Linked DNA regions of Homo sapiens: all the other regions are linked to region 1. Evidence: fine-mapped expression QTL. A gene starts in region 1. Each other region holds a variant in brackets. All regions are shown on one strand. Distances are from middle to middle.

What was found. PIP is the estimated chance that this variant, and not a neighbour inherited with it, causes the effect. A credible set is the group of variants that fine-mapping cannot tell apart.
Region 2: its variant is the best candidate, but not a certain one, in a credible set for the expression of DARS2 in whole blood (INTERVAL, PIP 0.87).
Region 3: its variant is the best candidate, but not a certain one, in a credible set for the expression of DARS2 in subcutaneous fat (GTEx, PIP 0.84).

The regions. Positions count from the first base shown.
Region 1 is chr1:173,823,435-173,826,192 of GRCh38, reverse strand. DARS2 (aspartyl-tRNA synthetase 2, mitochondrial) reads right to left here and starts at 1,520. Exons shown (of 17, transcript NM_018122.5): 1 at 837-1,520. The coding sequence starts at 963. It overlaps CENPL (centromere protein L), which reads left to right and starts at 1,310. Exons shown (of 6, transcript NM_001387287.1): 1 at 1,310-1,981; 2 at 2,174-2,267. RefSeq lists enhancers at 1-138, 780-1,297, 1,004-1,563, 1,298-1,816, 1,794-2,033.
Region 2 is chr1:173,796,196-173,798,953 of GRCh38, reverse strand. No RefSeq gene overlaps it. Among named protein-coding and RNA genes, the nearest start is that of DARS2, 27 kb to the left of the region's middle. RefSeq lists a silencer at 197-397. The variant A/C (reference allele first, on the strand shown) is at 1,553.
Region 3 is chr1:173,758,636-173,761,393 of GRCh38, reverse strand. The region is part of intron 7 of KLHL20 (kelch like family member 20); the gene reads right to left. Among named protein-coding and RNA genes, the nearest start is that of KLHL20, 45 kb to the right of the region's middle. RefSeq lists an enhancer at 1,960-2,460. The variant GAGTA/A (reference allele first, on the strand shown) is at 1,098.

The DNA of each region.
Region 1 (2,758 bases):
GAGTGCAGTGGCGCGATCTCGGCTCACTGCAAGCTCCGCCTCCGAGGTTCACGCCATTCTCCTGCCTCGGCCTCCCCAGCAGCGGGGACTACAGGCGCCCGCCACCACGCCCGGCTAATTTTTTTTTTATTTTTAGTAGAGACGGGGTTTCACCGTGTTAGCCAGGATGGTCTCGATCTCCTGACCTCGTGATCCGCCCTCCTCGACCTCCCAAAGTGCTGGGATTAACGACGTGAGCCACCGCGCCCGGCCGAAGAAGGATTTTTTTAAGGCATCAACCAAAAGCAGAGTATTCTATATATTACGTGGTTACCTTTTTGTGGTCTTTCTAAAAACTCAGGGAAAAAAAACTGCCGTATAATGAATATAATGAGAGTGAATTTCGCTTCTACACATAAGGCTATCCAGTTAAGAACAGGGGAAAAGCCGGGCGCGGTGGCTCACGCCTGTAATCCCAGCACTATGGGAGGCGGAGGCGGGTGGATCACGAGGTCAGGAGATCGAGACCATCCTGGCTAACACAGTGAAACCCCGGCTCTACCAAAAATACAGAAAAATTAGCCGGGCGTGGTCGCGGGCGCCTGTAGTCCCAGCTACTCGGGAGGCTGAGGCAGGAGAATGGCGTGAACCCGGGAGGCGGAGCTTGCAGTGAGCGGAGATCGCGCCACTTCACTCTAGCCTGGGCAGCAGAGCGAGACTCCGTCTCAAATAATAATAATAATAATAATAATAATAATAATAATGGGGGAAAAAATGAAAAATGGAATAAAAGCTCTCCGGCCGTAGATAACAGGCTGAAGTACTGTTCATAGGATAGATCTCTTCGCTATTTTCACCTGGAATTCTCCTCTGTGAACTCTGCAACAGACTTCTGTAGAGAGAACCCCAGATCGGTTGGGTGGTCCTTCTGATGGGTCTGGATAAACCCCTGTACAGCTGACTTAACCAAGAAGGGAAGTACATGTTGGAGCCACACGATGGCGAAAAACAATCACGAAATCCCACGCTGCCGGTAGTTAAAAGTCAGTTTTGGAAATACACAGAAATCCCTTAAAATTCCAGGAGTTCCCACTCTCTTCTCGAATATTTAAGGCCTCCTCCGCACAACATTGGAGTACACGTGTCTAGAAACAAGACAAATCTCCAAGGTCTCTGGGGTGCTTGCTGGGGTGGAGATAAGGGAAAGACCTCTCCCTGAGTCTTAAAGCATCAGTCTGCACTTCTACTCAACAAGTCGGCAGCCAAAAGTGACGACGAGAGAGCGACTCCACGTAGCGGCGCCAGGCGCGAGCCCAAGACAACCAGAGGCGGTCACAAGGTATACGCCCTTCTCCTCTTTCCACGCTTCTCGAGAGGCTCCCGCGGCCAGAACCGGAAAACAAGGAGTAACAGTCGCGTTTCAAATCTCGCAGACCTGCTGGCCGATTTCGAGTCTTCTGAAAGAGGAAGGCGAGCAAAGCCAAAATTCTCCCAGAGCGCGAACCCAAACACAGATCGCCGCTGGGGTCCAAGCGCCCTTCAACTCCGCCCGCTAGTGCCCAAGATTACCGGGAAGGAATTCAACGAATCAGTGGTGAGGTGCCGCCGCCATGCCTACTACGGGCGGAAATTTGAGAGAAAGCTTCGCACCGGTAGGAAAACTGAGGAGCAACCGAGCACGATTGGAAAGGTTGACGATAGTGGTTAAGTGGCTCGGCCTTGCCCTCAGTTAAAATGGCAATTTTAGTTGCTTCACTGATACGGAATCGGCGAGGCGCCAAGGAGGCTTCCTGCGTGGGGCCGCAGAGCGAGTCGGGAAACGATTTTAAACTGAAGAGGCGGCGGAGGGCCGAATTCCCTTTTCTCAACGGCTTGATTTCAGAGCTGGGCTGGTCTCTGACAGGCTCAGCTGGAGAGGGACGGGTTGGGACGCACTGTCCTTTTGCCCTTCCCCCTCCGCGAGCAGAAGCTGACTCCGCAGGAGCGAGGGTCGCAGAGCTGGGTGAGCGGAAATGTCCCTCCCAGAGTGAAGTCGCAGGGCCCGCCCCGCGTCTGAGGGAGCGGAGGTCTTCCTGGGTGCGTTTGTGTCTCTTGTGAACCCACTTGTGGAGCGAGAGGGAATTTGGGAGGGCCAGGGGTTAGTCTGGCCTCTGTCTTAGCTGTCATTTTGGCGGTTTTTTTTTTTTTTCTTCAGGGGATTTCAGTCTCCACATAGTTTTGGAGCCGGACTTTTGAAGAATGATTCGTGAATCCGGAATGGGTGACAGCGTCATCACGGCATTTTATTGGTAAAGATGCTTTGTATTGGTCCCGGACCTGCTTTAACTTTGTATTTGCCCTGTTGTGTGGTCATTATCTTACAATACTTGCGTGTTGAGGTGTGTTTAAACACTACGTGCTTAACACTGGCTAAGTATTGGCATTGGGGCGGTTGGATTTAGGTATTGGTGGCAATGTAGAAAAGTGATCAAGTCAGAGCCCCTTCACGGACTAATCACAAGAGAAACAACAAAGCTTTACTTGTGTGCTGTGAACCACAACTGCAAGTGGAATTGTCAAGAGAACTAGCCCTGCCAAGCTCAGGAAAACTTCTGAGGAGATGGCACATGGAAAATGGATAAGATTTACTGAGACAAACGGGAGTAGAGAAGTGTTTTTAATTGGCGATAAGGTGAATAAAAAGGCAGGGAGAACAGTAGAGTGATCATCTGTCTAGAGTAGGGGGTGCATGTTTGGGTATAGGGCTGTCATTTAACCTCTTAAAGAATTGTCTACTGGA
Region 2 (2,758 bases), 27 kb after region 1:
TTTGTTCTGAGGAAATTATATTTTAGTGAAATAAGGCAAAAGGTTAATAATTTCAGATGGAGACAAATGCTATGAAGAAAATAAGGCAGTGCAATATGAAAAAGGGTGACTGGGGTGGGGCCTACCTTTCATACAGTAGTCAAAGAAGGTCTGTCTGAGGAAGTGACCTTTTGAACTGAGTCCTGAATGATGAGTTGGAACCAGCCATGTGAAGATCTGAGGAAGGGTGTGCTAGGCAGGAGAAACCTTGAGATAGGTAAGAGTTTGGCTGCTTTGAAGAACAAAGGAAGTTTTTTGGCTAGAGCATAGTGAATAAGGGTGTATGGCCTATTATGAGCTGAAACTGAATAGGTTGTGCAGCAAAGACTTCTTCCATGGCATAAAATGTCCCAATTTTTGGCTAGGGCACCTGGCTGCCCAGAATAAAGATGATATTTTCCAGCCTTCCTCGTAGGTAGGTATAGTCATATGAATATGTTCTGATTTGGGATACAAATTGAAGTGTCATATAGAGCTTCCAGAAATCTTACCTATAATAAAAAACAACTGGCATGTACCCCTTCCCCCTTTTCTTACTTTTCCCTTCTTCCAACTTTGCTGCCTGGAACATTGATATTATGACTAGTACTATAGCTATTCTCTTAGGTCTTGGGGTTGAGGAACAAGTCCTAGGGATGACAGAGCATGGCCTGGGAGGAGCTTGTGCCCTGAGGTTTTCTTGAAGGTGAACTCCAGTGCCAGCCTTGGGCAGTCTTCCTCTAGACTTACTTGTCAGAGAAGTAAACTTCTCTCTTGTTTTAGCTGTTGTCATTTTGGGTCTTTCTTGCTCATAGTCAAACTTAATCCTAACTTGATACAGAGGCAGGAGCTCTATCATCTAAGTTTTTATAGTGTGAAGAGATTGGATTTTATTCTAAATGCAATGGGAAGCCACTGAAAGATTTTAAGTAAGAGAGTAATATGATTCAATTAGTATTTTATAGGATTTTATAAGATATGAGGGAGAATGGGTGTAGGTAGACAAGAGTGGAAGAAGGGAAACAGTTAAAAGGTTATTGCAAATGATAAAACCCTAATGGAGAAGAAGTTAGCAATATTAAACAAAACTATGTGTGCAGTCACCCTTTGATTAGCAATTCCACTTCTAGGATTCTGTCCCAAAAATTCACTGGCAAAAAAATATGAAATGAAGCATGTACAAGGTTACTTATTACAATAGTATTTGTAATAGCAAGACTAAAAACAACTCAGATGCTCATCAGGCCTGGTATAGCTGCAAAATGAATTACTACTATGCAGCTATAAAAAGGATTGGGGAAGATATCTCTTTACTCCCATGGAGTGATCTCCAAGATGTACTGTTATGTGAAAGAGCAATGTATGTGGACAGAATGTAGAGTATTGTACTTTTTATGTAAGGAATGAGGGAGATATGAGTGTATTTCCTTATGCTTTCAAAAAACAATGAAAGGATAAACCACAAACTTATAACTGTATTTACTTATAGGGAGAAGGAAGGAACAGAGTAGAGGGGACAGGAATGAAAGTTAAG[A/C]TTTACCTGAATGTTCCTTTTTAATAGTTTAGAACCATGTAAGTGTTTTGTATAATTATGAAAGAAAATTAGAACAAAAGGAAAAAACAAAGCAATCCTTAGCAATTAAAAAAAAATGAGCCTAACTGTATTAAGTTCATGGCATAATCACACAAGTTTTTTTATTCTTTTTTGAGACACGGTCTTGCTCTGTTGTCCAGGCTAGAGTGCAGTGGCACAATCACAGTTCACTGCAGCCTTGACCTCCCTGGCCCAAACAATCCTCCAAACTCAGCCTTCCAAGTAGCTGAGACCACAGGCATATTGCCACCAAGCCTGGCTAATTTTTTAATTTTTGTAGAGATGAGGTCTCCCTATGTTGTTCAAGCTGTTCTCCTGGGCTCAAGCGATCCTCCTGCATTGGCCTCCCAAAGTGCTGGTATTACAGGCATGAGCCACTGTTCCCAGCCCACACAAATTTTTTTCAGTATCTATTTTAATTTAATTTACTTTTATTTTATTTTGAGACAGGGTCTGGCTCTGTTGCCCAGGCTGGAGTGCAGTGGCATGATCTCAGCTCACTGTAGCCTCTGCCTCCTGGGCTCAAACCATCCTCCCTCCTCAGCCTCCCAAGTAGCTCGGACTACAGGTGCATGCAATAATGCCCAGCTAATTTTTTGTATTTTTGGTAGAGATGGGGTTTCAGTATATTGCCCAGGCTGGTCTTTAACCCTTCCCACCTGAGCCGAGGCTCAAACAATCCTCCTGCCTTGGCCTCCCCAAATGCTAGGATTATGGACGTGAGCCACCACACTTGGCCTTTATATTTTTATTTTAGAGATGGGATCTTGCTGTGTTGCTTAGGCTGGGCTCAAACTCTTGGGCTAAAGTGGTCTTCTTGCCCCAGCTTCCTGAGTAGCTGGACTACAGGTGTGTAACACCATGTCTGGCCTTTTTTCTTTTTTTTGATAATTTTTTTTTTTTTAGAGTTGGGGTCTTGCTGTGTTGCCCAGGCTAGTCTTGAACTCCTGGGCTCAAGTGATCCTCCCCTCTTGGCCTCCCAAAGTGCTGGGATTGCAGGCAGGAGCCACTGCACCCAGCCTGGAGTATCATTAAATTTGTGTATCTTTAAATTTTTAGTATCTTTAAATTTGTGGTATTTTGGTTGTATATTCTAGCAGGCTCCATCCTAGAAAAAGAAGAGCAGCAAATAAATTTTAAATCACA
Region 3 (2,758 bases), 65 kb after region 1:
CTGTTAAGTCCATTTTTTCCAAGGTATAGTTTAAATCCATTGTTTCTTTGTTGAATTTCCCTCTTGATGACCTGTCTAGTGCTGTCAGTGGAATATTGAAGTCTCCCACTATTATTGTGTTGCTGTCTATCTCATTTCTTGGGTCTATTAGTAATTGTTTTATAAGTTTGGGAGCTCCAGTGTTAGGTGCATGTATGTTTAAGACTATGATATTTTTCTGTCGGACAAAGCCTTTTACCATTATATACTGTCCCTCTTTGTCTCTTTTAACCACTGTTGCTTTAAAGTTTGTTTTGTCTGATATAAGAAGAGCTACCCCTGCTCGCTTTTGGTGTCCATTTGCATTAAATGCCTTTTTCCACTGCTTTAAGTTTATGTGAGTCCTTATGTGTTAGGTGAGTCTCCCAAAGGCAGCAGATGGTTGGTGAGTTCTTATCCATTCTGCGGTTCTGTACCTTTTAAGTGGAGCATTTAGGTCATTTACATTCAATGTTAGTATTGAAATGTGAGGTACCGTTACTTTACTTTCGTAGTGCTCTTTCTTGCCTATGTACTTTGGTTTTGTTTTGTGTTTTTGCTTTTTAACTTGTATTTTTGCATTATGGGTACTGTGTGATTTATGCTTTAAAGAGGTTCTGTTTTGATGTGTTTCCAGGATTTCTTTCAAGATTTACAGCTCCTTTTAGAAGTTCTTGTAGTGGTGATTTGGTAATGGCGAATTATCTCAGCATTTCTTTGTCTGAAAACGGCTTATCTTTCGTTCACATACGATGCTTAGTTTCACTGGATACGAAATTCTTGGCTGATAATTGTTTTGTTTGAGGAGGCTGAAGATAGGTCCCCAATTCCTTCTAGCTTATAGGGTTTCTGCTGAGAAGTCTGCTGTTAATATGGTAGGTTTTCCTTTATAAGTTACCCTGTGCTTCTGTCTCATGGCTCTTGATTCTTTCCTTCATCTTGAGTTTGGATAACCTGATGACAACGTGCCTAGGGAAAGATCTTTTTGTGATGAATTTCACAGGTGTTCTTTGTGCTTCCTGTATTTGGATGTTTAGGTCTCTCACAAGGCTGGGGATATTTTCCTTGATTACTCTCCC[GAGTA/A]TGTTTTCCAGGCTTTTAGAATTCTCTTCTTCCTCGGATATACCGATTATTCTCAGGTTTGGTTGTTTAACATAATCCCAGACTTTTTGGAGGCTTGTTCATATTTTCTTATTCTTTTTTCTTTGTCTTTGTTGGATTGGGTTAATTCAAAGACCTTGTCTTTGAGCTCTGAATTTCTTTCTTCTACTTGTTCATATCTATTACTGAGACTTTCTAGAGCATTTTGCATTTCTAAAAGTGTGTCCAAAGTTTCCTGAATTTTTGTTTTTTCATTAAGCTATCTATTTTCTTGAGTGTTTCTCCCTTCACTTCTTGTATCATTTTTGGATTTCCTTGCCTTGGGCTTTGCCTTTCTCTGGTCCCTCCCTGATTAGCTTAATAACTAACCTCCTGAATTCTTTTTCAGGTAAATCAGGGAATCTTCTTGGTTTGGATCCATTGCTGGTGAATTAGTATGATTTTTTGGGGGTGTTGAAGAGCCTTGTTTTATCATGTTACCAGGGTTGGTTTTCTGGTTCCTTCTCATTGGGGTAGGCTCTGTCAGAGGGAAGGTCTAGGGATGAAGGCTATCGTTCAGATTCTTTTGTTCCACGAAGTGTTCCCTTGATGTAGTATTCTCTCTCTTTTCCTATGGATGTGGCTTCCTGTGAACCAAATTGCAGTGATTGCTGTCTCTCTTCTGGGTCTAGCCACCCAGCAAGTCTACTCAGCTCTGGGCTGGTAGTAGGGGATGTCTGCACAGAGTCCTGTGATGTGAACCATCTATGGGTCTCTCAGCTGTGGATACCAGCACCTGTTCTGGTGGAGGGTGCAATGGACTCCGTGAGGATCCTTAGTTTTGGTGGTTTAATACCCTATTTTTGTGTTGGTTGGCCTCCTGCCAGGAGGTGGTGCTTTCCAGAAAACATCAGCTGTAGTAGTGTGGAGAGAGACTGGTGGTAGGTGGGGTCCTAGAACTCCCAAGATTATATGCCCTTTGTCTTCCACTACCAGGGTGGACAGGGAAGGACCATCAGGTGGGGGCAGGATTAGGCATGTCTGAGCTCAGACTCTCCTTGGGCGGGTCTTGTTGCGACTGCTGTTGGGGATGGGGGAAGAGATTCCTAGGTCACTTGAGTTGTGTACCTAGGAAGATTATGACTGCCTCTGCTGAGTCATGCAGGTTGTCAGTAAAGTGGGGGAAAGCCGGCAGTCACAGGCCTCACTCAGCTCCCACACAAACTGAAGGGCTGGTCTCACTCCCATGGTCTCACTCCCACCGTGCCCCTCTCACAACTCTGAGTCTGTTTCCAGGCCACAGGCGGGCAGCAGGCTTGCCCCAGGCTATCCGCCTCCCAGCTGCAAGAGAAAAGGGCTTTAGTTTTCCCCCTGCCGGTGAAGTCTGCATGCAGGATTTGCACCCTACCTTGAGTTCTGGTCAGGAGGCTTCTCACCCTGTTCAAATTGTTACAAAGTTCAGCTAGAGAATTCCTTCTCCCTGGGGAGTTTTATCCCCTGCTCCTCTGGCCACCCTCCCAATGGATCCCTGTGGTGCCAGGCAGGAATGGCCTGCTTGGGGACCCAGCAAACTCCCAGGGCCTTTCTGCTGCTTCCTCTACCCCTGTTATTTCGCTTGCCTCTCTAACTTGACTCAGCTCCAGGTAAAGTTGGAAACTTC